4 separate regions of the Homo sapiens genome follow, and regions 2, 3 and 4 are each linked to region 1. Evidence: fine-mapped expression QTL. A gene starts in region 1. Each other region holds a variant in brackets. All regions are shown on one strand. Distances are between the middles of the regions.

Region 1 (8,108 bases):
CTCGGATCCGAGGGCAGGCGCAGAGAGGCCATGGCACCTAGGAGACAAACCCGGAGGAACCAGGACAGTAGGAAACAAAAACAGCAGCAAAAGGGACGTTGGGGCAGCCCCTCCCAGCTCCGGACTAATGGTGTGCCGAGGTGCAGTAGGCATCCGGGGGAGCAGCCCCGCCTGGCCCGCGCGCGCCTCGCACCTGCTCGGCTAGGCGCCGGTACATTCTCTAAACGGAGGGAATAGTCTGGTCCTGGGGAGCGCGGCTGGTGGTAGCTGTGAGCCTTCTTGCTTTTGACGAGAAATGAGCGCGGCATGGTGGTCCGGCACTTTCCCCACTGCGCCCCAAGAGTCCCTGGAGCCGCTGTCACCCACGGTCACTCCGAGGGCTTGCTCAGCCCCAGCCCGGAGGAGACCTGAGAGGGAAAGAAAACCAGGTGGAGACGTGGGTCAGTACTCTCCGGTGCGGCGGACTGGGCACCCAGGCGGAGGGAGAGCGCGGGCCAGGGAGGCGCGCAGAGGGCCCACGGGAGGAGGGGCTTGACCCTGCTGCGCCGCGCTTACCAGGTGGCACTTGGACAGGTGGCGCGAACCCGCCGTCGTTGCCGCCGCCGCCACTGACACAGCTCAGCGGTAAAACCTGTCCCGGGGCCCTGTCTCAGGCCCCTTTCCTCCTCCCTGCCCACGCCCCCCAGCTCCTCCCCTTTCCTAGCGAAGCTCGCTCCGGCAATCAAACTCCCTGGAGAGCTGTAGTTCCCATCGGGTGGGTTACCCCAACTCAGCTACTCATCGCCTGCCTGGCTGTGCTTTACGGCTGGCGAGGGAGGGCGGGGACACGCGGATCGGTTTAGGGGCCGGGGATGCCCAGTGGTCGAGGACCCGGAAGGGGCAAGGAGCCAAGACCTCCAAGAGCCAGCTACCAACTGGAGTGAAAGGACCGGGGGGAGGGGGGAACAGAACACAAGATAAAACTGTGGGGCGGCGGGAGGACAGCAGCAGAGGGATTGGGGACAGCAGAGGCCAGAGAAAGGAGGTGGGAGAGCAAAGGGACAGGAAAGTGAGGGGAACAACAGACGACCAACCCCCGCCCCAGGAGAAACTCGCATCTGGGTGATCCCACTCGCCCCTCACTAGTGCCCCACGTAGGAGAAACTTTGCCCTTGGACTCCCGGCTGCGGCGGGCACCGGTCGAGGCTGCGGCGAGCCATCCCAGACCATGGAGACCTAACCTCGGGAATCAGGTCCCGGGAAAAAAGCACTTTCCGTTCTGCTCACCAAAAAATCTTGTCCTAGGGAGGTGGAGCCCGATCCACGAACGTTGACTGGGAAATGCTAGGTGTCCCGAGTCGGTAGTGCACCGACAATTTAGCAGACAAAAAAGACAGGACGCCAGAGCGCGCAGGCTGCATTAGCAGAGAGCGGGGGTCGGGCCCGGGCCCGGGAGGGAACTAGCTGCCCGGGGCGTCGCTCTCATTAACCCCCAATCAGTTCACCTAATACCAGGTCGAAATCTGAGCGCAGCGGGAGGGCGTGGCTGCGCCTGCCGCTAGGCTCCAGCCGGCTCCGGGGGCGGTACCCCACAGTCGAGGTGGTCTGGAGTAAACGAATCTGCCTTCCTCCCGGGGTGAAGGCGATGGTGACCGGGTTCACACGTGAGCTGCAGTACAGCAGTTCTCCGTGGCCTCGGCTGGTTCAGAAACGAGGGTGCTGGGAACTCTGGGCCGGGGCAGGACCTGCAGTCCTCCGGCTTCGCGCTGTTTCCACTGCCGGACTAGGAGCCCCTCGGCTTCCTAGGCAAGATGCAGGCCACACAGTCTACGTCTGTCCGTTGGCGCTCTCAGCTCAAACGAGTCCTACAGGCCTTGGTCCCTGTAGGGTGCAGGCCCCCTGCTCCAGATCCCCAGCCCCATTGTGTCCCCTTCTCCGGAGGAATGGGAATAGACCTGGGAGAAAAGACGCCTGGGACGTGTCGCGGGGCTCCCGCGAAGTTTCCCGCTACCCAAGCGCCAGAATGCCCCTAGGGGTGAGAGTGCCATCCGCCTCCCTCCGGGGTGGCTCCTAGGGCTAGAGCTTTGTCGCTTCCTGCACTTCTCGTCCGTACAATTAGACGCCACAAACCCCAAACCCAATTCTTTAAACAGCCACGAAACTCGGAAGAAAAGAAAAACGGAGTGGCGTTGTCCCGAGGGTCCCGCTGCAGCTTGGACCCACGTTGGCTGGGAGCGGGACAGATGGGGGCGGGGTAACTGTCAGCGCCGGAGCTGGGTCTGGGCTGGCGCCACCAGAGACCAGGCGGACGCGGAGGCCGCCTCCCCACCCGGGCTGTAAGCCCACGCCTCTCTCGCACCCCGGCCCGCTTTGCTGGTTCCTGTGGGGAGCGACAGAGTTTGGAGGAGATAGGGGCCCCGGGGCCTGGGCCGAGCGCGTGGGAAGGCAACCCCGCGCTGCAGCTGGCGCGGGAGGTGGGGCGGCCCCTCCGCGCGCTCAGGCCTCTCCTCACCGTCCGGGCCCAGGAAGGAGGGAGCCGAGGGCGCTAAGGGGGCGTCCTCCCGAGCGCAGCTGCCGCCGCCTCCCCACCAGATGTTTCCTTCCCTGGTGGATTTGGCTCCCCTGCCGAACCACCAGACCGCCTGCTGCGCGCCCCCAGCTCCAGATTTCCAGTCACACTGCGCGGGTCGCGCCCTAACCCAGCTGCCGGAGCTCTCTGGGCTCCCGCACGGCGGTCCGCAGCAGGTGGGAAACCGCCCGCGCCCTCTGATCGCCCCCGCAGTGCCAGTGCTCTGCGAGTCCCCGCGGCCGCCCCCACCAGGGCAGGAGGCGCAGAACAGGCTCGGCGGACCTACCTGCGGAGTCACGGCGCGGGCACCGCGCTAGGAGAGTTTTCAAACGGAATCTTGCTTTCGGGAGAGACCGCTCTATCTCTCTGACTTAAAAAAAAAAAAAATTCTCCTTCCGAGCTCAGCCCCCAAAACCACAAGCTTCACTTCCTGAGCGTTACTGAGTCGCTCGCATAGCCCTCCCAGACCTGCTCCCAACCCCCGTCGGGCGGCCGGGCGCGCTCCTTTGCGCAAGTGGCCAGGCGGTGGGGGGCCTGGCCTTTCCAGCCCGTCCCGCGCGCCCCTTAGTAGTCCTCCCAGTTCTCTCCCTGTGGGTCGGCAGGGGATGGGGGAAATTGGAGGTCCGGACACTTAGGCACTAGAAATGACTTGAAAGAAAATGAACTATTCTTGGCTCCAGGGAGACTTCCGCAGCGAGAGAAGCCACAGATTGAGGACACAGATTGACTGGCGAGAGAGGGGTGGGGGGCGCCCCGCTCCGAGGACCCTCCCCGCCCCTCAGGCCTCGGTCACCCGCCCCCCCCACCCCCGACCCCGCCGCCTCCTAGGGCTGCACCACCCCCGGGTCGGGACCGTGAATCACCGGCCCGCGGTGCCGCCGGCCTGGAGCCCGGCGAGTGGCCACGGCGTCCGCAGAGCGAAACCTGCCCCGCAGGCCCCGAAATAGCTTGTTGTGGAAACACTTGGGGATAAATACGCCCAACGAGGCTGAAAATACCTTGACACCCAATCCGAGAGGTTTGCTCATTTCCCTTCGGATTTAGGTAATGGTTAAATTTGGAAGAGGTGGGCGAGCGCCGAGCCCCCGGCGGAGAGGGCCCTGGCGGCGCGTCCCGCGGGCGCCCGGCGGGACCGGTGGGCGCACCCTCCCTGCGCGGAGCTCGCCGGCTCTCGACCGGGTCCGCTCAGCCTTCGACTAATTTCCGGTGGTCGGAGCTGCAAAATTAAAGGCCGCGCGGGGGCAGCGCCGGCGGCTGCTAGGCTGACTCCGCCCTGCCGGGGCAAGCCAGGGAGAGCGGGACCTCGCACGCGGGCTCTGCCACCGCCTGAGGTCATACCCAGGCACTGGGTGTTGGCGGGAGCAGTAAAGCGCCATAAAAGCACCACTTGGATGACTATTGCAAAGTAAGCCTTCTTCGCTCGGATTCTATGTTTCATGAGGGTAGGCACTGGATCTTCATCTTTATGTCCTAGGCGGGCTCTTAACAAAAGGCTGTGGACTGAGTAAATGAATGAGTGGGGTTAATTAACTAATTAATTATATTAATAGAACAGGGGGAAAAAACTTAAAACCTAACTCATAGATACATGAACAAATGCAGCAACCTCCAACGCTAGACTGTATGCCATGACCCATAGTGTGTGGCCTGCTGTGTATACTCAAAGCCTACACCCTTTGCTCATTGGAGTGGATGGATGTTGTAGTCATGTTACTTTTCAAAATGAATTGACTTGGATTTTGATCACAACTTCGTGCACAATAGGCCTCCAATGTCAGACATGCACAAGGAGAAGAGAGTGGTGCTCCCCAGTTCTTGCAAAATAACTACCATGTTCTAGGTTAATCTTAAATTGTTATGGGGGGGGAAGCCCTTAAAGCTCTTTTTCTAGAAACAGTTTTTAAATTATTCTTATTTTGCACTGTAAATTTAAAATTTTGCAGGGAATATTTGGTTAGTATAGCAGTGCTTCGAGCATGTATTAATAAATTATACGTTTTGTTAAGCAATGACCTGTGCCCCTATTGTATGCCAGGCGCTGGGCAAATCTTGTCTGCCTAGCTGTCCTCCTTCATTTGCTCAACACATCCCTTCTTTATATATAAATGCAGAGGCAAGCAATTTTGGTCAGAAAGGAAAATTAAGGACATTTTGTTAATATTTTATTTCTTGTGTGCTTTGTCCTGGCCTAAGGTATAAAAATCTCACAGTAGTGCAAAAACAAATCTTTCCCTTATTCCCTTCTCTCCTACTCGATAGCAGAAAAAAACAAATTTTTAGAATAAAATTATAAATGGGACAAAATAAAATTTCTTATCAACCAAGTTCTAGAGAAATGGTTGGACTATTTCCTTTGCATATTAGCAAGTTCAAAGTCAAAATTTCTCGAAAAGGTGCTGTGACTATTTTATAGTTTAGTTGAGTGTTGCTGTTTGAAGTCTCAGAAAACTTGAGGGAGCCCATGAAGGGGGCAGATAAGCACCTTGAGCAGTGAGCAGTATCACCTTAGAATAAATCCCTTTCATTCAGATTTAGTCTAGTCATTTTGCTTTTCATTTGCCCTTCACAGACTCTTGGGATTTCTGAGTTTGAAAAAGAAAACTGAGAACTGGAACAGGGACACGCAGAAAGGAGCAGGTGGGAGGGAGATGGCACTGAATTTCCCTTTATGTCTTTTACATGTTGAACCATGTGTATGTAGTACTAACTCAAATAAATAAATACACATTTAAAAAGTATTTAACAAGTATTCAACACGTTTAAAAAGTATTTAACAATACTTTTTAACAACACAACACTCCCGGGTGTATAGTGTTGAAGTGTGACTCCCACACTTGGGGAAGAATAGGAGAAAGGTAAGAAGAGGGGAACCCAGAGAGGTTAAGAACCTTGCCAAGGACAGTGAAGAGCTAGGACTAGAAATAACGATACAATGAACCCATCTCTGACTTCCTGCTACTCCAAACTACCTCTTGCTTCTATTAAACTAAGGGCAAAGAGAATAAGCCACCCCTCCATGAACATTTTTAGAAGCTACAAATACTCCCTCTCCCTCCATATATTCCTTTGGAATTGAAATAGATCTAATGGTAAGCAAAATGTATACCTGAGGCACAATTTTCTATAAATAGGGTCTTTCCAAAGGAATAATTTTACATTTACTGCCTTTTCAATAATTTGAAACTAATTGTTTCAAATATTTAGAAACTAATTGTTTCTAAATAGCAATAATAATGTATCTGTCGATGCCAAATAACAACTGACCTTCTCATACCACAAACATTTCCAAGCCTTGGCCAGTAGCCCATTTATTTCAAGCAGCCTCTCATAGATCAGAATTTCCCTACAACAGAAGATTTGAGACATTAAAAAAAAAAAAGTGGAGATGGAGTCTCGTTATGTTGCCTAGGCTGGTCTCAAACTCCTGGCCTCAAATGATCCTCCTGCCTCAGCCTCCCAAAATGCTGGGATTACAGGCGTGAACCACTGTGCCTGGCTGAGACATTTTCAAAAAGAAAATTGTAACAGGATATTACCAGTATCTTGTTTATTTTTTCACAAAGCTTTACAATTATGATCTCTGTCCTTTGTGGGACGGCATGGGAAAAGTGGGTGATCCTGAAACCCCAGGGAGGGGCAATACCCCCATTTCCAGAATACATTTCTATGTTTGCCTCATTTGATTCTCACCATGATGATACCAGGAAGGGAAAAAAGAGTTCAGGCATTCAAAAGCTAGTAAGATGTGATTGTCAATCTCTGTTCTGCTAGTACCAGCTTTGAGACCTTGGATAAGTTAGCTCAACTCTCAGCCTGTTTCTCACCTGTAAAGTCGGAATACTGGTACCTACCACGCAAGACTGTGGAGCAACCTTTTTTTTTTTTTTTTTTTTGAGATGAAGTATTGCTCTTTTGCTCAGGTTGGAGTGCAGTGGCGTGATCTCTGCTCACTGCAACCTCCACCTACCGGGTTCAAGCGATTCTCCTGCCTCAGCCTGCCGAGTAGCTGGGATTACAGGCATGCACCACCACGCCCAGCTAATTTTTGTATTTTTAGTAGAGACGGGGTTTTACCATGTTGGCTAGGCTGGTATTGAACTCTTGACCTCGTGATCCACTTGCCTCAGCCTCCCAAAGTGCTGGGATTACAGGCATGAGCCACAATGCCCAGCTGGAACAATCTTTTAATTTGCACTCTTTACCTGTTCATTTGGGCAGCAAGAATGGGAGAATGCTCCAAATGAGGGTTTCTGAGTTTTAAATATAAACGTATAAGAAATTATGCTATATTATTTGTATATTATAAATAATAATATAAATAAGACTATATTACAAATTATGCTACATATATCTGATAAGAAAAGAATAAAACTCTGTAAAACAACTTTCAAGTATTCTTGCTCTATTATTTAACAAAAATTATAATCGTATTACAGATACAACTGAGTAGTCTGCTTTTCTTCCCGAATATTATAATTATTTTTCTTTTTTCTATTCTCTTTATTTTCCTGTTTTCTTAAATGGAATATAAACTTTTTATAGTAAAAATTATTTAAATAAAAATCATGACAATCATCTTCCTTGCTTTTTATATACAATCTTTCATTTTCAATTGCTATAAAAAAGTTCTATCAGCTAGTTTACTATAATTTACTCAATCACTCTCATCTTACTATTTAGCTTGTTTCGAGTTTTTACTATTTTAAGTAATACAATGAAAAGATTTTTGAATATAGCTTTCCCTACATTTGGAATTATTTCCTTAGGATATATTTTTAGGGGTGAAATTTCTAGATCCAACAATGATTATTTGTACGGTCCTTGATACATACCAGAACAAGTTTTATGGATGGCGCTTATGTAATGCATAAGCCAAAAGAATTCATACCACTTAACAGTTAAAAGACTACAAAAATAAACTAAGGAAAAGTTTGACTTGGATTAAAGACCAGATATAGAACTGGTCTTTATTTTATGTACAGGAAGTACTTGTTAGAACCACACCCTGTCATATTGCCATGGTTTTATCCTCATGTATACTAACAAACTATTTAATTTTTGTCTTTGGATTAGGTGTCATGATAGGTGTAGTCAAACTGAAATAAGAATTACATATATTTTAATTGTATTAATTCAAAGAAAATAAATGCAAACTGATAACTGTGTGATGCCTTAACTTGAATGACAGGTAATATAATTATCCCCTTCTAATCTTATAAGAAGCAGGCTATCAAAATAGAATTCCACTGACACCATAAGTCAGAATACGATTTAATGGTACCATCATTTGTGGGAAGTGGGTAATGTTTTTTGTACCAGCTCATGCAAAAATTGGGAAATTAAGTAAAGGAGAAACATGGAGATAAGTTAATAGAAGACTTAAGGTATAAGAACCAACTTTGTATTAATATTTTTTACTTTTCAAACATGAAGAAAAACATTTGCTTTTAATAAACATTTTGGGACTGATATATTTAAATCTCATTACATTTAAAAATATTATCTATTACTATAAAGTTTAAATTAGGCTTTTACATAAAGGATTTCAAACATCTGAAGA
Region 2 (8,108 bases), 160 kb before region 1:
TTCTTGACCCAGAGTCTTTTTCATCCTGATCTTTTAAAGTTTTGATAGTGTCTGTGCTTTAGAGCATCCTTGTTTGTTTCAAGTTTGTATTGGCAAAGCTACTGTTGCCTTCCCTTTTTCGTAATTCTTCATCTTATTCAAATCTAATCTGAAAATTGAAGAACATTGTCAGGGAAAACTTTTGTCTTTTATTGTTAGCATATTGTTGTAACTCTGGATTTTCAAATTTAAATATCTTTTATTGAAAAATGTTGATTTGCTAACTTGTTCTGCTATGACTTTCCTGTGATTTTCATTCTGTAGAATTTTCTGTACAACAATCAACCAGAATTAGAAAATGTTTACCCATTTATTTTTATCATTTTATCTTTTCAAATCTAAACACAATTCCTGTAATTTTTTTTTTTATTTAAGAAACCGATAATGAAATTTTCTTTCTTTTTTTTTTTTTTTTTTCAAGACAGAGTCTCACTCTATCACCCAGGCTAGAATGCAGTGGCGCGATCTCGGCTCACTGCAACCTCTGCCACCTGGGTTCAAGCAGTTCTCCTGCCTCAGCCTCCTGAGTAACTGGGACTACAGGCATGCGCCACCACTCCTGGCTAATTTTTGTATTTTTAGTAGAGACAGGGTTTCACTATGTTGGCCAGGCTGGTCTTGAACTCCTGACCTCAGGTGACCCACCTGCCTTGGCCTCCCAAGGTGCTGGGATTACAGATGTGAGTCACCACACTCAGCCAAAGTTTTCAAAAGAAAAACTTTTTTTAAAAAGGTCAGCCAGTAATCCCAGCAGTTTGGGAGGCCAAGACAGGTGGATCACTTGAGGTCGGGAGTTTGAGACCAGCCTGGCCAACATGATGAAACCCCATCTCTACTAAAATACAAAAATTAGCTGGGCATGGTGGTGTGCACCTGTAATCCCAGCTACTTGGGAGGCTGAGGCAGGAGAATCACTTGAACCTGGGAAGCAGAGGTTGCAGTGAACCGAGATCTTGCCACTGCGCTCCAGCCTGGGTGACAGAGCAAGACTCCATCTCAAATGAATAAAAATAAAATAAAATACAAAAAATAAAAAATAAAAAGCTCAGCCGGGCACGGTGGCTCACCCCTGTAATTCCAGCACTTTGGGAGGCCAAGGTGGGCAAATCACTTGAGGCCAAGAATTTGTGACCAGCCTGGCCAACATGGCAAAACTCCATCTCTACTAAAAAAATACAAAAATTAGCCAGGCGTGGTGGTGCCCACGTGTAATCCCAGCTACTTGGGAGGCCGAGGTGGGAGAATCGCTTGAACCTAGGGGGCAGAGGTTGCAGTGAGCTGAGTTCACACCATTGCACTCCAGCCTGGGCAACACAGACTTTGTCTTAAAAATATATATTTATTTTTATATTATTTTTCATATTATATATTTTTTAAACTACATATATACTTTATATATTATATATAATATACATTATATATGTACAAGTATATATTATATATGTAAATATGTGTACATATAAATATATACTTTATATTTTTATATATTTATATATCTTTATATTTATATATATACTTTATATATATATTTATATATATATATATATTTGCAACAACAGGCAAATCCAAATAGTGCAGTAGGATAGCATTATCAAGTTTTTTAAAAAGTTTTGCTGTACTCCTGTAACAATTTTAAAATAATTGGGGGAAAAAGATGAAGGAAGAATACAGAAGGAGAACTATATCAAAAAATATATTATTAACAGATGTACTGAAATTATAGGCTTCTTCTGAAATTTATATATCAGAACCTAGAAATAAGGTTTTGTCTGGGGAATAAAAATTTCTACCTTGAAAGTTACAATGTATAAATACTATGGGGTACTTTACTTTTCTATTGTTTTCGGGTTTTATTTGCTATTTTTTATTTAGTTATTTTATTTCTCTTTCATTCTACAGTGGCCATTCTGGAGAAGAAGTACAGTTATGCAGTAAAGCCATTAAAACATCAGATATCGACAATCCTAGCCACTTTGAAAAGCAATATGAATCTAGTTCTTCTAGCACTCACAGTGATAGTAGCAGTGACAATGAGCAAGACTTTGTTTCCTCCATTCTACCAGGAAACAGACCAAATTCAACAAATATTAGACCACAGCTGCACCAAAAAAGCATAATGAAAAAGAAAGCTGGTCACAAAGCTAACTCCAAACACAAAGACAAAGAACAGACAGTAGTAGATGTCACTGAGCAGTTAGGCGATTGCAAATTAGATAGTCAGGAGAAAGATGCTACATGTGAACTTCCTTTACAGAAAGTAAATACTCAGAGTTCTTCAAATAGCACTTTGCCTGAAAGATTAAAAGCGTCAGAAAATTCTGAAAGTGAATACAGTAGGTCAGAAATAACTCTAGTAGGCATAAGTAAGAAAAGTGCAGAGCATTTTAAGAGAAAATTTGCCAAATCAAACCAAGTGTCTAGGTCAGTGTCTAGTTCAGTGCAGGTGTGTCCTGAAGTTGGAAAGAGAAACTTACTTAAAGTTTTGAAGGAGACTTTGATTGAGTGGAAGACAGAAGAAACATTGAGGTTTTTGTATGGCCAGAATTATGCTTCTGTGTGTCTGAAACCCGAAGCCTCTCTGGTTAAAGAAGAACTTGATGAAGATGACATAATCTCAGATCCAGATAGTCATTTCCCTGCCTGGAGGGAATCTCAGAACAGCTTGGATGAGTCTTTACCTTTTAGGGGCTCAGGTACAGCCATTAAACCACTGCCAAGTTACGAGAATTTGAAAAAAGAAACTGAAAAGTTAAATCTGAGGATCAGGGAGTTTTACAGAGGACGGTATGTTTTGGGTGAAGAAACCACCAAATCACAAGACTCAGAAGAGGTATGTCTTACAGACATTGAGTTTTTCCAGATCGTTAACATTTGGAAAACTCACCACAGCAAATCTTGGAGCAGGAAGGATATTGAAGAGTTAATTGTTAAATTTTCAAATAGTTTCTTTAGTCATTCTGCCTTTTGGTTTACAGTGCCATCTCCACTGTTGGCATTACTATTTTACAAATAAGTTGACGTTTACCCCTAGCAAATTTTCATCAGTGTGCAATATTTTTTTCTAATGTAAAAATAGCCTAAAATGGTGGGACAAAGTTTTCCCTAATTCTTCATACAATAAATGAAGCCTCTGAAGAGGCTTGCTTTTTCTTCTTCGGTATTCTTTCAGATTTTTACATGGGGTCTGTGTGTGTGTGTTTAATGGAAGTATATGCCATGGAATAGACTTGGTAGTTACATTGGAAAATATTTAGCAAGCATGTCCATTGAAAACATTACAGATCAAAATAGTTTGTAAAAGAGACTTATTGGGAAATAATGGACAAAGAGAATGGAAAGCACATTCAGATAGACCTAGATTTGAACATCTGTTGTGTCATTTACTAGCTGTATGAAAAATTAGTTTCTTGGTCTGTTTGCTCATCTGTAAATGGAACTATTAATAGCTTCTCTTGCTCAATTGTTATTTGTTTTAAAGATAATGTGTATAAAGCATTTATCACAGTACATGACATATAATTGGTACTCAGTAAATAGTACCCATATGTAGAGATTGAAAATGTGCCACTGAGATTTAGAGAGCATCTTTTAGTATTTCTACTACCCATCTTTGATTGATGTATACTCCCTGGAAAATGAAGTCATTTAA[C/T]ATGAAGAGGAATGGGTAATAACCTTGTTTTTACCACAAAACTTTGTTCTCAAATATTCCTAAGTAAATGTGGCTCTAAATTTAAAAGCACATTGGAGATTTGGAAAGAGGGTAGAAGTAGAAATGTAGTAAAAAATTTAGAAATATATTTCTATAGAGTGTTGCTTGGCCCAGCACCCTACTTCAAATCATTTCAAGTATCTTATTAGACATCATCCAAAACTTATATTAAGCTAGGAGAAACATTGATCTCTGTCACTGAGCTGCATAAACCTACCATAGAACATCACTTATTTTATCATTTTGTCCTTTTTAGCCTTAAAAAGGAAAAAATAATCCCTGAAATTTGACTTTTAAAAATTTATAACATTTTCCAAAAATGTTACATAACATGTTAAAACATTTCCATTGAAGTACAACACAAATAGTAATTATATGATTTCTTGAGTATTCACATATGAATGTCCTGATGTAATCACTACCCAAGCCAAGAAATAGGTCATTACAAGTAAACTAGAAGCCCCATATATATCCCCTCCTAATCAGCACCTCTTTCCAAAATTAATATTATATTAGCACAGATTAGTTCTGTCATTTTTTTTCCAGTATATATTCTTGGTGTCCAGTTTATTTCATGCAATATTATACTTTTGAGTCATTTGTGTTGTTGCATATAGCTGTAGTTCATTCTTTTATTGCTGTATAGTATTCCATTATATAAATATACCATTTATTTATGCTAATGGACATTTAGACTATTTCCAATTTGGGGCTATTATGAACAATATTCTTAGGAACTTTCTCGTATTTATCTCTCTGCTAATATGCGTATGTATTTCTGAAGTATCTAGGACTGGGAATGGTGGGTTATCGTATATGCATATATGCAACTATACTAGATAATGCCAAACAGTTTTCCAAAGTGGTTGTACCGGTTTACAGTTCCACTACTACTATATGGGAGTTTCCTTGATTCCATGTCCTCCCTGGTACTTGATATAGTTAGTTTTAGCCATTCTGGTAGTATTGGTTTATGATTATAATACATTACTGTGATGATGAATAAATTCAGCACTATTTTATTTGCTTATTGACCACTTGGATAATCTCTTAGGTCAGGTCTGCAGATCTCTCAGCCATGGATACCAGCACCTGCTCTGGTGGAGATGGCAGGGGGGTGAAATGGATTCTGTGAGGATCCTTGCTTTTGGTTGTTTAATGTACTATTTTTGTGCTGGTTAGCCTCCTGCCAGAAGGTGGCACTTTCAAGAGAGCATCAGTTGTGGTAGTATAGGGAGGATCAGGCTGTGGGTAGGGCCGTAGAACTCCCAAGAATATATGCCCTTTGTCTTCAGCTACCGGAGTGGGTAGGGAAGGACCGTCATGGGGGCAGGGCTATGTGCGTCTGAACTCAAGACTCCTTGGGCAGGGCTTGCTGTGGCTGTTGTGGGGGATGGGAGTGTGGTTCCCAGGTCAGTGGAGCTATTCCAGGAAGATTATGGCTGCCTCTGCTGTGTCATGCAGGTTGTCAGGGAAGTGGGGGAAAGCTGGTGGCAGGCCTCACCCAGCTCCCATGCAACCCAAAAGACCAGTTTCACTCCCACCATGTCCCTTCAAACAGCACCAAGTTTGTTTACAGGCAGTGGGCAGGAAGGGCTGAGAACTTGCCCCAGGCTACCAGCCTCTCACCTGTGAGAACAAGTAGGGCTTTCACATCTCCCAGCCTGTGGAGTCTGCACACCAGATTCACACCCTCCCTTGAGTTCTGGCCAGGAGACTTCCTGTTCATTTGGAATTGTTACAAAGTTCAGCTGGCCTATCATATGGTCTATCTCGGAGACTGTTCCATGTGCTGATGAATAGAATGTATATCCTGCTGTTGTTGGGTAGAATGTTCTGTAAATATCTGTTAAATCCATTTGTTCTAGGGTATAATCAAAATTATATCAAATATTCTCTCAGACCACAGTGGAATTTTTTAATTTCTACTTAGATTTCATTGTTGACCTAGTGATCATTCAGGAACAGGTCTTGATGACCTGTCTAGTGCTGTCAGTGGAGTACTGAAGTCCCCCACTATTATTGTGTTGCTTTCTATCTCATTTCCTAGGTCTCGTAGTAACTGTTTTATAAATTTGGGAGCTCCAGGTTTAGATGCATATTTATTTAGGATTGTCATATTTTCCTATTGGACTAGTCCTTTTATCATTGTATAATGTCCCTCTTTGTCTTTTTAAACTGCTGTTGCTTTAAAGTTTGTTTTGTCTGATATAAGAATAGCTACTTCTCACTTTTGGTGTCCATTTGCATGGAATATGTTTTTCCACCCTTTACCTTAAGTTTATGTGAATCCTTATGTGTCAGGTGAGTCCCTTGAAAAGCAGATACTTGGTTGGTGAATTCGTATTAATTTTGCCATTCTGTATTTTTTAAGTGGAGCATTTAGGCCATTTACATTCAATGTTAGTATTGAGATGTGAGGTACTATTCTATTCATCGTGCTATTTGTTGCCTGAACAGCTTTTTTTTTTTCATTGTCTTATTGTTTTATAGGTCCTGTGAGATTTATGCTTTAAAGAGATTCTATTTTGGTATTATTTCCAGGATTTGTTTCAAGATTTATCGCTCCTTTAGCAGTTCTTGTAGTGCTGACTTGGTAGTGGTGAATTCTCTCAGAATTTGTTTGTCTGAAAAAGACTATCTTTCCTTCATTTATGAACCTTAGTTTCGCTGGATACAAAATTCTTGGCTGACAGTTGTTTTGTTTAAGGAGGCTAAAGATAGGACTCCAATGTCTTCTAGCTTATAGGGTTTCTGCTGAGAAATCTGCTGTTAATCTGATAGGCTTTCCTTTATAAGTTATCTGATGCTTTTGCCTCACTGCTCTTAAGATTCTTTCCTTCATCTTGACTTTCGATAACCTGATGACTATGTGCCGGGGCAATGATCTTTTTATGATGAGTTTCCCAGGTGTTCTTTGAGCTTCTTGTATTTGGATGTGTAGGTCTCTAGCAAGGCTGGAGAAGTTTTCCTTGATTATTCCCTCAAATATGTTTTCCAAACTTTTAGATTTCTCTTCTTTCTCAGGAACACCAATTATTCTTAGGTTTGTTTGTTTGACATAATCCCAAACTTCTTGGAGCCTTTGTTCATTTTTTAAATTCTTTTTTCTTTGTTGGACTGGGTTAATTCAAAAGCCTTGTCTTGAAGCTCTGAAGTTCTTCTACTTGCTCAATTTTATTGCTGAGACTTTCCAGTGCATTTGCATTTCTCTAAGTATGTCCTTCATTTCCCAAAGTTGTGATAGTTTTTTATTTATGCTATCTATTTCACTGGAGATTTTTCCATTCATATCCTGTATGATTTGTTTGATTTCTTTAAGTTGGGCCTCACCTTTCTCTGGTGCCTCCTTGATTAGCTTAATAATTGACCTTCTGAATCCTTTTTCTGGCAATTCTGAGATTTTGTCTTGGTTTGGATCCATTGCTGGTGAGCTAGTATGATGTTTTGGGTTGTTAAAGATCCTTGTTTTGTCATATTACTAGAATTGTTTTTCTGGTTCCTTCTCATTTGGGTAGACTGTGAGAAGGAAGATCTGGGACTCAAGGGCTGCTGTTTAGATTCTTTTGTCCCACAGGGTGCTCCCTTGATTTGGTGCTCTCCTCCTTCCCCTAGGGATGGGGCTTCCTGAGAGCCAAACTGCAGTGATTGTTATTGTTCTTGTGGATCTAGCCACCCAGCAGAGCTACCAGGCTTCTGGCGGGTACTAGGGAGTGTCTGCAAAGGGTCCTGTGATGTGATCCGTCTTCAGCTGTGGATACCAGCACCTGCTCCAGTGGAGGTACAGGGGAGTGAAGTGGACTCTGTGAGGGTCCTTAATTGTATTTTTTTTAAGTGCGCTGGTTTTGTGTTGGTTGGCCTTCAGCCAGGAGGTGGTGCTTTCAAGAGTGCATCAGCTGCAGTAGGATAGGGAGGATACAAGCTTGCTCTGGGGTCAGGCAGTGGGTAGGGCCATAGAGCTCCCAAGAGATTAAGTCCTTTGTCTTCGGCTACCAGGGCCAGTAGAGAAAGACCATCAGGTGGGGGTACCATTGTGTGATTCCCAGGCCAATGGAGTTATGTTCCCAGGTGGATTATGGCTGACTCTGCTGCATCACACAGGTCACTAGGGAAGTGGGGGAAAGCTGGCAACCACAGGCCTCACCCAGCTTCCACACAGCCTGCAGCCTAAAAGGCCAGACTCACTCCCACCGTGCCCCCACAACAGCACCAAGTTTATTTCCAGGCAGCTGATGAGCAGGGCTGAGAACTTGCCCCAGGCTACAGGCCTCCCAGCTGAGAAAGCAAGCTGACTCACAGTTCCTTGCCTTTTCTGGTATGTTTCTGCGGTAGTTCTTGGAGCAAAAGTTCATGATGGGAG
Region 3 (8,108 bases), 26 kb before region 1:
TTTGAAGCCAACATATAATTAGATCTTGCTTTTTTATCTACTCAGATAATCTCTGACTTTGAATTGGGGTGTTTGGAATTGTCATGTCCAATACAATATGTGTAGCAACTAGCCATATATTCCTATTTAAATTTAAATTAATTAAAATTAAACACAATTTTAAAATCAGTCACACCAGCCACATTTCAAGTGTTCAATAGCCAAATGTGGCTAGTGGCTACTGTATTGGACAGCACCGGTTACGTCATTTGCATTTATATATAATGGGGATTATTGATATGGTTTGGTTTGAGTTGTAACATTTCACCATTTCTTTTCTTTTTCTTTTCTTTCTTTCTTTCTTTTTTTTTTTTTTGAGACAGAGTGTTGCTGTGACACGCAGGCTGGAGTGCAGTGGCACGATCTCGGCTCAGTGCAACCTCCAGCTCCCGGGTTCAAGTGATTCTCCTGCCTCAGCCTCCTGAGTAGCTGGGATTACAGGAGTGCACCACCATGCCTGGCTAATTTTTGTATTTTTAGTAGAGATGGGATTTCTCCATGTTGGCCAGGCTGGTCTCAAACTCCTGGCCTCAAGTGATACGCCCTCCTCGGCCTCCCAAAGTGCTAGGATTACAGGTGTGAGCCACCGTGCCTGACCTCTCCAATTATTTTCTATTTGTCCCATCTGTACTGGTTTTATTTCTAGAAGTTATATTTACTTTCAAATCTGCTTGGTCTTTTTTTTTTTTTCCCCGAGATGGAGTCTTGGTCTTGTCACCCAGGCTGGAGTGCAATAGGACAATCTTGGCTCACTGCAACCTCCGCCTCCTAGGTTCAAGCAATTCTCCTGCCTCAGCCTCCTGAGTAGCTGGGATTACAGGTGCCTACCACCACACCTGGTTAATTTTTTTTGTATTATTAGTGGAGACAGGGTTTCACCATGTTGGCCAGCCTGGTCTTGAACTCCTGACCTCAGGTGATCTGCCCACCTCGGCCTCCCAAAGTGCTGGGATTACAGGTGTGAGCCACCATGCCTGGCCCTCTGTGGCCATTCTTTATTGTCATTATTCTCTGCTCATATTTTTAAGCACTTATTTTTTCTCTTTAAACATAATAGATTATTTCATATCTGTTTTCCAACATCTGAAATATTTGTGAGTCTATATTTGCTGAAATTTGTTTATATTGATTCTCATTTATGGTGTCTTGCTTACATCATTATACGTCTTGTGATTTTTTAAAAAAAAAAATATAAGCTGCCTGTTCTCCTTGGAACTTAACCTGTAGGAATTCTTTAAGGTCTGGATTACAGTTAAATCCTTCCAGAGAAATTTGTTTTTGTTTCTATCAATTGCCCCAGGTGCTACCAATCTGGGACTATAGTTGAACTATAGTTAGTTTAAAATTTTAGACTGAATTCTCACAAACACACACGAAGGCCAACTTGCTTTACGAACTGTTAGGGAAGATTTCCAACCCCTCCACCAGCGCCAAGGTGGAAATAGGCATTTCTTCATTATCTCCTTCTGTGCAGAGTGACTTCCTATTCATCCTTACACTGAGGGTATAGAGGGGTGAGTTTCCTAAGATTCTCCACCTTAGTCAGCCCTAAGCTTTAACTCCTGATTCTGTGCCTTCTTCATACAGCTTCATGCAGCCTCAAAGAAGGAAGGACTCTCCAGAATTTGAAAAAACCCTGCTTCCCCGACCAGATTTCCTACTTTCACTACTGTTTCTGAAATCAACAAATTCCTTATTTTGGTGACAGATCAGTGATTTATTTATAATTATGTAAGAATAGTTTACCCAGAATTTTGGTTGTTTTAATCTACAGAGTTATTCAGGATATCTAATCTATGATACTGCCAGAAATGGGAGTTTCCAGCCCTGTTACACTTCTTTTTCTTTTTTCTTTTTTTTGAGACAGAGTTTCACTGTGTCACCCAGGTTGAGGTGCAGTGGCTCCATCTCGCCTCACTGCAACCTCCACCTCCTGGGTTCAAGCGATTCTCCTTCCTCAGCCTCCCGAGTAGCTGGGATTACAGGCATGCGCCACTACGCCCAGCTAATTCTTGTATTTTTAGTAGAAGACAGGGTTTCACCATGTTGGCCAGGCTGGTCTCGAACTCCTGACCTCAGGTGATCCACCCGCCTTGGCCTCCCAAAATGCTAGGATTACAGGTGTGAGGCACTGCTCCTGGCCAGCCCTGTTACATTTCAAAGTCATTGATTAAGAATAATAGGATAATAACTATTATATGTTGGTTGTTTCCTCTGGGCCTGGCATCTTGCAGGTATCTGCAATCCTCACAATAACCCTACAAGTAGGAATTATTCTTCCCATGTATTCCCAACAGATAAAGCAACTAGGATTAAATTGTCCAAAGGCATGCAACTAGTCAGCAAAGGAATTTGAATTCTGCTCTTTGCAATCAATCTTGATCTACTTTTCTTTTTATTTATTTATTTATTTATTTATTTTTGAGACGAAGTCTCACTCTGTTGCCCAGGCTGGAGTGCAATGGTATGATCTTGGCTCACTGCAACCTCCGCCTCCCAGGTTCAAGCGATTCTCCCACCTCACCCTCCCAGTAGCTGTGATTACAGGCACCTGCCATCATTCCCGGCTAATTTTTTTTTTTTTGTATTTTTGTAGAGACGGGGTTTCACCATGTTGGCCAGGCTGGTCTTGAACTCCTGACCTCAGGTGATCCGCCTGCCTCGGCCTCCCAAAGTGCTGGGATTACAGGCATGAGCCACTGCACCCAGGCCTGATCTACTTTTTAAGCCACAGAGATGTTTTTCTTAATATTGATGGAACACAGTGGCTTTCATATTTTAGAGGAGGCACTGAAAGCAAGGTAAGCAGAGAAAAGATTTTATGGGGTAAGTCTTTCCACTTCAGAGTTCCAACACATGGGCTCCCATCAGCTCACTCCATATCCATGATAGGTTTAATCAGATTCAGGTTTAATCTATAATGAAATAATCGTGCAGAAACCGACTTCATGATACTGGCAGTCAGAACTCTCAGATCTCCCTTGTTCTCTATTATTTCCAAAGGTGACCTTTGTTTGCTTGAGACACAAAACCAGTTCCTTCATCTGAATTGTCTTTTACACCCTCACGTATCTAATAGGACTTTCTCTCAAATACAGACTTTGGATGTCATTTTCTTCATTTTGGGGGGTTGGTGGCTTTTGTCCTTAGCAGCTGTGGCCTTAGACTTTATCTAGGTTTGCAATCAGGAAGCTGTGATACTTCCTGAGACTGTTCTGGGTAAAATTTACACAATACAAGTTGAGTTCTCTTTCTTCACTTAGGAGTTGCTCTGGGCTCTTGAAAGGACAGGCTGTGCTCTGTCCAGTTTGCTACAGGTTGAATCCAACAGTTGGTAAGAACCAGCCTCTGTGGTTTACAGCTACTT[G/C]TGCTTCCTGAGCAACACTCGTGGAGAATTTGGAAAGAAGGCAATGATTAGGATTAGAGTCTAGAAAACCGTTAAGAAGGAGGAAGTTTATCAACTTAGTGGGAGTAAATCTCCAAACCACTCTCAGAATGCTAACACGCACAGTTTCTCTTTGCCATGACCAATCGTCAGGCTGTTGAAGGAAACCAACCTAATAGCAGAGGCAAAGGGAGAAGCTGGAGAAGAATAATCATTTAAAAATATTCACATCCTTTGACCAAATAAATAAGTCAGGAATGGACATTGTTAGGTGCCCCCCCCAACTTTTTTTTGTTGTTGTTGTTGAGATGGAGTCTTGCTGTCACCCAGGCTAGAGTACAGTGGCACCATCTCAGCTCACTGCAACCTCCACCTCCTGGGTTTGAGTGATCCTCCTGCCTCAGTCCCAAGTAGCTGGGCTTACAAGTATGTGCCACCACGCCCACCTAATTTTTTTTTTTTTGTATTTTTAGTAGAGATGGGGTTTCGCAGTGTTGGCCAGGCTGGTCTCAAACTCCTGACCTCAAGTGATCCACCCACCTTGGCCCCCCAAAGTGCTGGAATTACTGTGCCCGGCCCTAGAGCCACTTATTATACACAAGTTTTTCCATTTGTGAAATGCTCCCAAAGTTGTAACCATCATTCTGTATTTATTTCTTGACTTATAGACAGGGTCTCCCTCTGTTGCCCAGGCTGGAGTGCAGTGGTGCAATCATAGCTCACTATAACCTCCAACTCCTAGGCTCAAGCAATCCTCCTGCCTCAGCCTCCCACAGTGCTGTGATAACAAGCATGAGTCACTGTGCTTGACCCTATCACTCTATATTTAAAAGTTATTTCCTTGCTGGGTACACCTTGGAACTCTCTGATGAATTAATCTATTTTTATATTTATTGATACAAATTTTAATACTATTTTAAATACTATTAAAAGTTTCATGAGCTTATTATTAAGTTTGTGTGCTAGGAGTCTAGTTTCTGGGCCTTCATCCCCAGAGTGCTGTCTTTGTCTCCTGTTGGTGAGAGGACTTAAAGGAGTAGGAGAGGGGAAAATACACAAGTTGGAGTCTGTGTAAGCAGATTTGGTAAATGAAAATGAGAGAACAGGGTGGCCTGAGGTTTGGGATGATGTCTGAATTAGAGGTGTTCAGCTTTGCCAGCCTCCACAAACAATAGTAATACAGAAGAAAATGTCAACTCACTGCCTATCAGAAAATAGCATAAATAATGCCTTTGACGACTATAGTATCTGTTCTCTGAAATTTAAAGTATTGCCTCACCAAATCCCATAACACCTCCTGTGAAGTGAATAGGATAAGTATTAGCATTTCCACTTGAAACCCCTTATTTCAGTTAGGAGTAGATTAGGGGTAGGGAGAAAAGCAGAAGAACCAGATATCTAGGAAAGAGACTGCCTGATCCTCATGAGGCTGAACTTGTCCACACATCTCATGCCTTTTCACGATCACATGCCCAGAAGACCTGATTCAAATCTTGTCTTCACCATTTAGTACCTCTCTGAGTTTCAGTTTTCTCATGCATAATACAGATGTAATGACAATCATCTAACAGGAATGTTAAATTGGGAAAATATTGGCAAAACGCTTGACACATAATAGGTGTTTAAGATATGTATGATCTCTTCCCTTCCCCGACAGTTCACAAAAGCGAAATTATTATCACATGTTTTCTATAATTGGAAGGGAACAAAAGTAGTAGAATATCCCTAAGGTTGGCAGATACCACAGTCAAACCACACTCCATTTAAGATGTGCTAAACAAGGTATTTAAGAAAGTGACCACATGGGGGAATAAAAGAGACATTTATAATGGCAACCCAAAGAGGCAAACCCCACAAGGACACAATGAAAACTGAAACCACAATAATCTCTAAATAGAGAAGTAATAATTGTAGCCTATATTTAAGTGTACGGGAAGCAAAGGTTTAGGTGGGTAGGGTTGTCTGCCATGGCAATCATGCTTATTATTTCAAAATTTGTGGAGAGAACTAGAACTATTTTTTTTAAGTCACAAAACATTTCAGGTCTTTCCACTCTTATTGAAAAAAAAAAAAGTACAGAAATAAAAGAAGTAATAAAAAGTGAGGCTGGGGAATGGGCCAGGGCAGGAGTATACAGGTAGAATCAACTGTATTGATAAAATTCTTTTTTTTTTTTTTTTTTTTTGAGACGGAGTCTCGCTCTGTCACCCAGGCTGGAGTGCAATGGCACAGTCTCAGCTCACTGCAAACTCAACCTCCCAGGTTCAAACAATTCTCCTGCCTCAGCCTCCCAAGTAGCTGGGATTACAGGCATGTGCCACCATGCCTGGCTTTGTATTTTTAGTAGAGACGGGGTTTCACCATGTTGGCCAGGCTGGTCTCGAACTCCTAACTTCAAGTGATCTGTTCGCCTCAGCCTCCCAAAGTGCTGGGATTACAGGCATGAGCCACTGTGCTCGGGCAACATAATAAAAATTTCTAAGTGGATTTGAAATAGGTGGTCAAGTTACAATAAAAAAGAATCATCGATATCTGCAGGGAGTTCTATCTGCAATCAAAAATGAAATGTGTAATCCCACTTTCCAAATGCTGCCAGAAAACATATTTGCACTTCTGATTTTAGAATCAATAAGTTAGTTAACAAAGAATACAGCTTTGCCCCTGGACACTAGTAAGTTGCTGGATCAGGTGCCTCATACAATTGTACTTATTCAGGGACATAGAGAAGCCTGGTCTCCATCAGGCAGATGGAAACAACTTGGGCTATGGCAGCAAAGGGCACCAGGCAATGGAATAGTCCTGGGCTTGGGAGAGGTGGTCTGTAAATTGCTGCCGTCAGCAATGAGTGGCTAATTTCTTAAATATCCTTGTGAATTTTTAAGAGAAAAAAATACACCAGGATAGACTTAATTGAATGTATGTGATTTAATAAGGATAAGAATAATAAGATTATCAGGGTTTCCAGAATAAAATTTTGTCATGATCTAATTGAGAAATAAAATCAACCAGTGACGTGAGCTGACCCCAAAGAAATAGTACAAATAATCTGAGATCAGCCTTGAAAACCAGACTGCCTGGGGTTTAATACCAGCTGTGTCACATATTCACTATGTGACCTTGGAAAGATGGTTAACTTTTCTGTGCCTTAGTTTACTCGCCTATAAAATGGTGATAATAATGATAGATACTTTGTTTCAGAGGAATATTGCTAGGATTAAATGAGAAAATGTATGCAGAGCATTTAGTTCATTTCTTAACATAGAGCAAAGTCTTAATAAGTGGTGGTAGTTATTCATATTAGAAGATATCAATAATGATAAAAATAGTCATGACAGCGGGTTATTTATTGAGTGCCCACTCTGCACCAGACTCTTGACATAGATGATATGGTATATATATTTTTCCTGCAGATTTACCTTACAAATTGGGTTTAATATTTAAGGTGAGGTTGTGAGCAAAGGAAACCAGACTTTTCAAAGGGACGATGATCACAGTGAAACTGAAAGCATAAATTAAGGAAAGATCAGTTATGCCCTTTTTTTCAGGGACAAGTTTCAGGAATCCAGATTTTCTTTATTTGATAGACACATATGGAGTAACTCTTAGACTCCGCTGGACTAAAAAGAGACAGCTACACTCTCCAGTTAGAAATGGCTGTTCATACTCTGAAACTGATCATCATCTAATGTAAGTACAGTATGGCATATCTCTAAGATAAATGGAGAAAGTGCAACCCAACTGAACGCTGATGGCAGTTGCTTCCTGGCTTGGAGAAACAGCGATTGCATTCTTAGTTTTAACCTTTCTGGGCCCCAAGCTTAGGATAATATAGTCTATTATTGGCCTGTTTCTCATATTATTCTGAAATTTCTAGTGTCTACCTTGTAAGAGAAAAACATTACTAGCCAGGCGCAGTGGCTCACACCTGTAATCCCAGCACTTTGGGAGGCCGAGGTGGGCGTATCACCTGAGGTCAGGGGTTCGAGACCAGTCTGGCCAACATGGTGAAACCTCTACTAAAAATACAAAAATCAGCCAGGCATGGTGGCGGGCGCCTGTAATCCCAGCTACTCAGGAGGCTGAGGCAGGAGAATTGCTTGAACCTTGGAGGCGGAGGTTGCAGTGAGCCAAGATGGCGCCACTGCACTCTAGCCTGCGCGACAGAGCGAGACTCTGTCTCAAAAAAAAAAAAAGAAAAAAAAATTACTGAGTACATAAATATATGTATGAATTTAAATGTACTCCCACCTCCCCAGCCAAAATCCTATTGCACTGAACTTAGGCTAAATTTAACAACATTTAAGTAATATTTATTCATTTAAAAAAATACTTGCTTTATAGGCCCTAGAGATGCAGTAGTAAATAAGATAGACATGATCTCTGACTCATGGGAAGTCAGATAATAAACAAGAAAACAAGTAAATAAATCACAAATCATCAGAAAATGCAGAAAGGAAGGCAATTTGTGAACAGAATGACTCTGACACAAGCCAGTCTTTTGTGAAGCCCTCTTCCAGGCTAATCTGGGCCCAGGATGTATATAGTCTCTGTCCCTCTCAGATGGTACTCCAACATCTTAGGGGAGGAGCCCTAGGGGTCATGGCTTTTCACAGCATGAGAATCAGAAGGAGAGGAAATAAGGGGGAAATGTCATGGCCACATTAGTGTTCGCACACACACACCC
Region 4 (8,108 bases), 500 kb after region 1:
AGGTTTTTCATAAAGGCCATTGTCAAGTTAAGGAAGTTCCCTTCTAATCTTTCTCTGTAGAGAAGATTTATCATCAATGGATGCTGGATTTTGTTGAATGATTTTCCTGCATCTATTGAGATGATCATATGCTTTTTCTTTTTCAGCTTGTTAATGTGATAAATTACATTGATTTTCAAATGTTAAACCAATTTTGCATTCCTGGGTTAAACTGTATTTGGCTATGATGTACTGTCCTTTTTATATATTATTGCATTTAATTTGCTAAAAATATTTTTAGAATTTTTGCAACCATATTTATGAGGGATATTTGTCTATAGTTTTCTTATAATGTCTTTGTCTGGTTTTTGGTATCAGGATAATACTGGCCTTATAGAATTATTTGGGGGAAAATTCTCTACTTTTCAATTTTCTGGTAAAATTTGTATAGAATTGATATTGTTTCTTCCTTCTACATTATTTAGAATTTACCAGTTAAGCAACTTGGACTTTTCTTTGTGGGAAGATTTTTTAAAACAAATTCAATTCTTTAATAGATATAAGGCTATTCAGGTTACTTATTTCTTCTTGAGTGAATTTTAATAGTTTCTGTCACTCAAAAAATTTATCCATTTCATCTATGCTGTTAAATTGATATGTAAAAAGTTTCTTATAATATTTCCATATTATTATTTTAATAACTATAGAAACTTTAGTGATGTTACCACTCACATTCTTGATATTGATAATTCATATATTCTTTCTTTTTTCCTGACAAGTCTGGCTAGAGATTTATCACTTTTATTATCTTCTCAAAGAACCAGCTTTTGGTTTCATTAATTTTTTCCTACTGTTTTTGCCTTTTCTTTTTTATTTATTTGTATCTCATATTTATTATTTCTTTTCTTCTGCTCACCCTTAGTTGAATTTGCTCTTCTTCTTCCAGTTTCTTAATTTTTTTTTTTTTTTTTTTTTAGAGACAGAGACTCACTATGTTGCCCAGGCTGGCCTCGAACTGGGCTCAAGCAATCCTCCTGCCTCAGCCTCCTGAGTAGCTAGGACTATAGGAGCACACCACTGTGCCTTGTTCTTAAATTAGTTTCTTAAGTTTCAAAAGAATTTTGCTTGTTTTTGTTGTTGCTGGCAGAAGAGTAAATCTAGTTCCCAAATCCCATCGTGCCTGGAAATGAAATAGGATTAAGTTCATAATCATGTCTTCATCAAACTATTTTTGATCACTGAGCCCAGATCTTTCTTTTCATATTTGTTAGGCCTACAGATTCCAAATCTGCTAGAGACAGGGCCTTGCTATGTTGCCTAGGCTGGAGTGCAGTGACACGATTATTGCTCACTGTGGTTTTGAACTCCTGGGCTCAAGTGATCCTCCTGTCTTGGCCTCAGAGTGCTAGGATTTCTGGCATGAGCCACTGTACCTGACCTGGTTTTCATTTGTTCATTTGAGCAAAATTGGAAAAAAATGGATAGTTCTTTCTGAGTGAAACACCTATCCTTTTTATATTCTATGCCCTTACTTTATGTCTTAATCCATTAGTGTTGCTAAAACAAAACACCTGAGACTAGGTAACTTATAAACAACAGAAGTTTATTTCTCACAGTCTGGAGACTAGGAAGTCCAAGATCCCAGCAGGTTCGGTGTCTGATGAGGGCCCGGTCTTCCCTCCCAAGACAGTGATTTGTTGAGGCATCCTCTGGAGAGGAGAAACACTGTGTCCTCACATAGAGGAAGGGATAGAAGGGGCAAAAAGAGGCAAACTTTCTCCATCAAGCCCTTTATAAGGGCACCCAATCTTATTCATGAGGGTGAAGCTGTCATGACTCAATCACCTTTTATAGGCCACGCCTCCTAATATTGTTGCATTGGGGATTAAGTTTCAATATGAATTTTGGAGAGGACAAAACATTCGAATTATAGCATTTTGTACTTTGTGAGCTTAGAGCTCAACACATTTTTTAAAAAGAAATAATCACTGCTAGCATTTTTAGCAGTAAAAGCATGACTGGCAATCTAAGGGAAGAAAATATTAAAAAAAAAAAAGCTCACAAGATGCGGTGACTCACGCCTGTAATCCCAACAGTTTGGGAGAGTGAGGCAGCAGGATCACTTGAGTTCAGGAGCTGGAGACCAGCCTGGGTAACATGGTGAGACCCCGTCTCTACAAAAAATTTAAAAATTAACAGAGTGAGGTGGTGTGCACCTGTAGTCCCAGCTACTCAGAAGTCTGAGGTGCGAGGATCCTTTGAGGTTATAGTGAGCTGTGTTCTTGCCACTGCACTCACTCCAGGCTGGGTGACAGAATGAGACCCTATCTCAGAAGCAAAACAAAACTCAAGGATAACTGGGCATGGTGGCTCACACCTGTAATCCCAACACTTTGGGAAGGAAAGGTGGGAGGATAGCTCAGGCTAGGAGTTTAAGAGCAGCCTGGGCAACATAGCAAAACTCTGTCTCTATTAAAAAAGAAAAAAACCTCACTGATCTAATCATGCCCCAGGGTTTATCCACGTGTGCTTAAGAGAAGGAGTAAGTGATAGCCTTCATGGCTCAGGAGGATCACAGGTAATGTCAGCTGCCATGTGACTGAGCCATCCTGGAAGCAGATGCACCTTGCTAATGTATTCCTGGATTCTGACCTTTGGAAACTGTGTGAAATAAATGTTGCTTTAAGCTGCTAATTTTGGGATAATTTGTAATGCAGCAATAAATAATACAGATTCACAATGAAATAGGAGTTTCTAGGATTTGAGATAAATAGTAGCAGGTTTCTAGAACTCAGAAGGCACCAGGGTAAATTTCTTTGCCATATTGTGTACAAAGCACTCAGAACACTGTTGACAAAACAGTACTCACAGGTTGAGAGAGTCCAGGGACCATCTGGGACCAATGCCCCAGCAATGCAGATTTATGTGGTAAATGGTTTCAGGGAAGTGGTTCTGTGTTTCCTGAGAAGTACCGGATGTTTTTTATGGTGATAAGAGAGACAGAAGGAGTTTAGAGAGTTCAAGAGAGGAAAGGTAAGAATGCCAGGGCTCAGAAATTGGAGAGCTATTTTATAGAGTAATGAAAAGAGGAGTTTTCTTTATTTTTACCCTGTTAATTTAACACTAATGCATTCAGAAACTTTAGAAAATATAGGTAGGCAAAAAGAAGAAAATTAAATTCACCGTATGGAAATAATCGCTGTTGCCAGGCTTAGTGGCTCACACCTATAATCCCAGCACTTTTCTTTGGGAGGCCAAGGCAAGAGGATAGATTGAGTCCAGGAGTTTAAAACCAGCCTGGGCAACATAGTGAAATCCCATCTCTACAAATAAATAAATAAAAATAAAAAGAGGCTGAGTGTGGTGCCAAAGTGGAAGATCACTTGAGCCCAGGAGTTCAAGACCAGCCTGGGAAACATAGTGAGACTTCATCTCTATAAAAAGAAAAATAAATTTTAAAAAAGAAATAATCACGCTAGCATTTTTATCATGTTACTCTGACAAATAAATAAATGAATATAGACAGACTGACCCACCCATAAAGTCAGTATTTCAGTTGCCCCTTTAGAAGGCCATTTTGGCATTCTGTGAGCCTGGCTGCATCTGGATGGTGTGGCATGTAATATGACCAATGGAACCCATGGTCATGGGTCCATTCCTGTACCTCTGCTTCAAAGCAGGTCACTTGGCCAGATGTTATGCTGTGTGGGATTCCATGCCTGTGGATCAAGCATTCTATAAGCCCCTAGATAGCAGTCCTGGCTGAGGCTCTGTGGGTAGGAAAGGCAAACCCATACCTGGAATAGGCATTATCCTTGTGAAAGTGAACCACTAACCCTTTCAGAATAGGAGAGTTCTAATATCCAGGATGTTTTCCTTGAGAAATAATATGTTGAAGACTTAGTGATGGTCTCTGTTGCCGACAAGTTGAACATTCAGAGATAACTAGATTGGCTTTGCTCTGAGTCCATGCTGTTGGGCTCATATGTGGTCTCCACCTCTGCCATATGGTCACCCCACTCATGTGCCCATTATCTCAGCTCTGGGATTGCCAGTGATGCAGTCTGACTAATATCAATTGGCAGAGCCATTGTGTCTGCTTGGTTGTTAAATGTCTGGTGGATACTTTCTGGTAGACATGTGATACAACAGTCTTCATACTTTGTGCCTACTCTCACATGTCCATCCACTTCCTCTACCCAGATTTCCTTTGTCTCTGGTCTTCCAGTCCTCTGCATTCCAGGCCTTTAACCAGACAGCCAAGCCATTGGCCACAACCCAGGAATTTATATGTAGGCCATTTTTCCTTCCACCAAAGCAGATTCCCAGCTCTGTCCTTGGGGAAGATTTTTCCTTTCCACTGT[C/T]ATTAAGGAACACCTCTGAATGTGGCGATAATGCAGTCACCACTCATTTTTAGTATGCACTTGAGACGACCTATCTATAAACGAATCTTGGGCTTTTCCTTCCACTTTAACTCATCATAAGAGACCTTTCACAAGGCCATTGGTATAAGCCATGGGAGAGGAACTAGTGCAACTGTAATAGGTGACACGAGGGCCTGAGCTATTTGCCCATAGAGCTGGCTTGTACCTTCCGGTCCTACTTGGACTTGATTCTGGATATATCTGGATATACCATTTTCATCAACCGATGGATTGCTACTGGGCCCATCTAACTTTTTAACTTGATGTTATGGACAGAACCCTGATTACAATGGGAATAAGTTCTGAATGCATGGGTCATTTGATGTTCAATAGTCAAACATTCTGCCTCTACCAGAGTAACTTGCCTTCTGCAACTCGACAAGACAACAACTTGACAAGAACTGTTTTTCAAAGGGTATGTAATTTTCTGCTGTGGGTGGCATGACCTTTCTCCAGAATCCCAGGGGTCAGCCTTGTGATTCTCTCACTGGAGTTCTCCATAAGCCCCTCACTGCATCTTTTGCCACCACTGATACCTCCAACACCATAGGGCCTGCTGGATCATGTGACCTGAGTAGGGGTCTGCTTATACCACAGTCTGGACCTGATGGAGTGCCCTTTGTTTCTTCAAGCCCCCTCAAAGCTGTCAGCCTTCCATGTCACCCAGTATATGGGCAGGTGCAATATTCCTAAGTATGGGATATGTTGCATCAGAATCTAAAGAGACTTCCAGGCTCTGTGCTTTCTTCTTTGGGTTAAGGTGGAAGACGCCACAACTTGTCTTTTACTTTGGAGAGGTTATTCCAGCAAGTCTCTCACCACTGGACTCCTAAAAACCACACTGAAGTAGCTGGGCCCTGAAACTTCATGGAGTGTATTGACCAATTCTGGAATCCACATATCTTACCAAGGCATCCAGCCACCTCTACCTGACCACGGGATACCTCATATGAAGTGAGTTGCCCATTTTAACTGGGACTTGTCTGAGACACCAAACCATAAATTTGGAAAGCCCAGAGCAGTTCATCATTAAGCAGAATTGGCATACATAAGCTCAGGTTTAAGCAGCTTCTGAAGACTCTAATTAGTTAAGCAGGTGACCCTCACTCACAGTATGCCTATGCTTTTCACACTCAGCCCACAACTGTATCCTAACGGGAAGTTCCCTGTGATCAGTTGAGAAAGGAAGAAGGGATTCAAGCCTGGATAACAGATGACTCTCCATGGTGTGGTGTTACCAGTCAAAATTGAACCACAACAGCTGTCCAACTTAGATGTCTGAAAGACAATAAAGAATGTAAATCCTCCCACTGAGCATAACTTTGATCACTGCATGTCATGGTCCATTTGCTGAAAAAGGTGGACTGAGATGCAGATCTATGCACTTTCAAGGGCAGGGGCTAAGTGTAAGGTCACATGTTCAAAAACTTGGAAGAAAGAACAGAACACCAAGGGATTGGTAGCTGGAGATTTAGGGGAAATGTATGTGAATGAATATCTCGGAATGATCCCAGAGTGTAAGAATATTTGTGTCTCATGTGAATGACAGTCAAATAGCCTTTGCGGTTGAGACGTTCTGAATAACCAGTGGACAAGATTACCCATTTTATGACTCTCATATTTTTTCCCCAAACACTTCTGTACTTGCACAATTATTTATGGACTTAATATGGGCCTCACCTCAGCAAAGCTAATCTAGCTACTGCCATTGCTTGAATGCCAGCCTGACCTTGAGCCCTCAATTCACTGCTATACTCAGCAAGAAAAGACTGCCACCTGGTGGCAGATTGATTACATTGTCCTCTTCTTTGACTAAGGAAGAGCAATTTGGTCATTTATTCTTATTGGAATAGAAATTCATTCTGGGTAATCTGCCTTTCTTACCCGCCATACATCTGAGAGAAATATGATCTATAGATTTACTTACTGCTTCATTCACCATCATGGTATACCATAAAACATCGTTTCTGATTAAGGAGCTTATTTTATAGTAAAAGGTGTGAAGCTGCTGGGCGCGGTGGCTCACACCTGTAATCCCAACACTTTGAGAGGCCGAGGTGGATGGATCACCTCAGGTTGGAAGTTTGAGAATAAAGCTATTCATATGTCTATTGGATTCACTGGTCTTAACATGTATCTCATCCCCCCAAATTCTATGCAGAGATGCTATTCAAGGTAATCTACTCAAAATTTAGGTCCCCAGAAAGAATCAGGGCCCAGCTCCTGGGAAATGGGATGGCATGAATGAGGTGGGAAAGCAGGACCTTGGCTTCTAACCGGGACTCAGGGTGCCCTCTGTAGAATAGAAGGATGGAAAAGCTATGAGACCCAGTAAGAAGGAATGCAAAAGGGGATCTGGCTTCTTTTCACCAGGACATTGTGTTCAGGCTGGCATTGTAGCATTTAGGGTTGCTCTCAGCTGGTGAGCAGCTAAGCCAGTTTTGTCATATCTCAGTTTCCTAACATGCCTTTTTAATGCAGGTCTTTGTGCCTTTTCTTACACTGTTTTTTATATGCCCTTCTCCATTTATCTGATCACTACTAACGCCACAGCATCTCCAGAAAGTCTTCCTTTACTGGCCACATTAGCCCACAGTAACCTCTTCCTGAACCATATCACTTTCTGTCTGCATCATTTGTTTGGCATTTATCATTTATTTTTCAATGATAAGTGGACATATCATGTCTTCCCAAGTAGATTCACAGGAGCAATTTCGTAGACCTCATAGTATGAGCACAGTAACCATCACAGTTATGGAGAAATGCATACTGACTGATTGATTGATATAACCAAGCACAATGAGGAGTAAGTGCCATAGGCATTCATGGAGGGAACTATCATAAGACAGTGCATAGCGGGCACTCAATAATCATTTGAGTGACTAAGTGAATGATCAAATTGAGGAATGGGTTGACATGACTGGGAGGTCACATAAAGGAGAGAGGACCTTACTTTTGCTTGAGGAATGGAGAAGATGTGTTTAGAGGAAAGGCATAAGAGGCGAGGGAGTGGGTATAGCCTCTCCCTTCTCAACAGTCTACTGCTGTGCTCCCGTCTCCTAGAATGTCTCCGGCCCTCTCCCTGCCCCACCATAATATTGCTTAATAAGGAAGTAAGATTACTGGGCAAACAAGCCACTGCTGCATAGGCAGGAAAGTAAACTTTGTTTCTGATGTGACCATGTAATCTTTCCTACCTTTAATCTCCAGTACCATGCCAAAGCAAAATACTTTGGTGAGTGGTGCTCAAACCCAGGATTTAGTTTTAAGCCTGTCCTAGTGCACAGGCTCAAATTGAGCAAATGTGTCTTCTGCCATCCATGTGGAGCGTTTTGACTCCTTCCTTAGCCCTGTGGTATTCTGGGAGGTTAGGCTCGCTGCTTAGAGAATTATGTTGTGGATTAAAACCAGACCAGGTGGAAGGGAAGCCTGTGACAAACAAAAGCCATGACCTTCTCTGAGGTAATTATAGATAAACTCAGATTTTGCATAATTTCTTGGCTCTGCTGTATCAGGAGCTTGCTAAAGTCTTGTGTTTTTTACTTAGTCATTTCTTCTGTCCCAGGGATGGGGGTTGGGAGAAGCTTTGGGATTGCTGTGGAAGGAAGAAGGTGCAAGTCTCAGACACTCTGGAAGGGTCGGGGTAAGTACAAGGATATTAGCAAGTTTAGCCTGGTGACTTCTAGATCCTCTGCCTGGAATGAG

Direction of the effects. Positions count from the first base shown, and alleles are read on the strand shown. Sizes are in standard deviations (SD) of each study's normalised expression. Not every link is listed here.
As copies of C replace T in region 4, the expression in sun-exposed skin of the gene that starts at base 3,746 in region 1 goes down (moderate effect, 0.50 SD a copy in GTEx).

Evidence for each region. PIP is the estimated chance that this variant, and not a neighbour inherited with it, causes the effect.
Region 2: its variant is the best candidate, but not a certain one, in a credible set for the expression of GFI1 in whole blood (TOPMed, PIP 0.64).
Region 3: its variant is the best candidate, but not a certain one, in a credible set for the expression of GFI1 in whole blood (INTERVAL, PIP 0.86).
Region 4: its variant is the best candidate, but not a certain one, in a credible set for the expression of GFI1 in sun-exposed skin (GTEx, PIP 0.57).

The regions. Positions count from the first base shown.
Region 1 is chr1:92,483,180-92,491,287 of GRCh38, forward strand. GFI1 (growth factor independent 1 transcriptional repressor) reads right to left here and starts at 3,746. Exons shown (of 7, transcript NM_005263.5): 1 at 3,547-3,746; 2 at 194-407. The coding sequence starts at 308. RefSeq lists enhancers at 1-528, 1,129-1,729, 2,330-2,930, 2,853-3,002, 3,903-3,952 and silencers at 413-542, 2,323-2,502, 2,703-2,752, 3,373-3,482, 3,573-3,782.
Region 2 is chr1:92,321,507-92,329,614 of GRCh38, forward strand. It overlaps RPAP2 (RNA polymerase II associated protein 2), which reads left to right. Exons shown (of 13, transcript NM_024813.3): 8 at 1,939-2,869. It also overlaps a transcript of GLMN not described here. Among named protein-coding and RNA genes, the nearest start is that of RPAP2, 27 kb to the left of the region's middle. The variant C/T (reference allele first, on the strand shown) is at 3,689.
Region 3 is chr1:92,456,691-92,464,798 of GRCh38, forward strand. No RefSeq gene overlaps it. Among named protein-coding and RNA genes, the nearest start is that of GFI1, 26 kb to the right of the region's middle. The variant G/C (reference allele first, on the strand shown) is at 3,407.
Region 4 is chr1:92,988,127-92,996,234 of GRCh38, forward strand. No RefSeq gene overlaps it. Among named protein-coding and RNA genes, the nearest start is that of DIPK1A, 31 kb to the left of the region's middle. The variant C/T (reference allele first, on the strand shown) is at 4,344.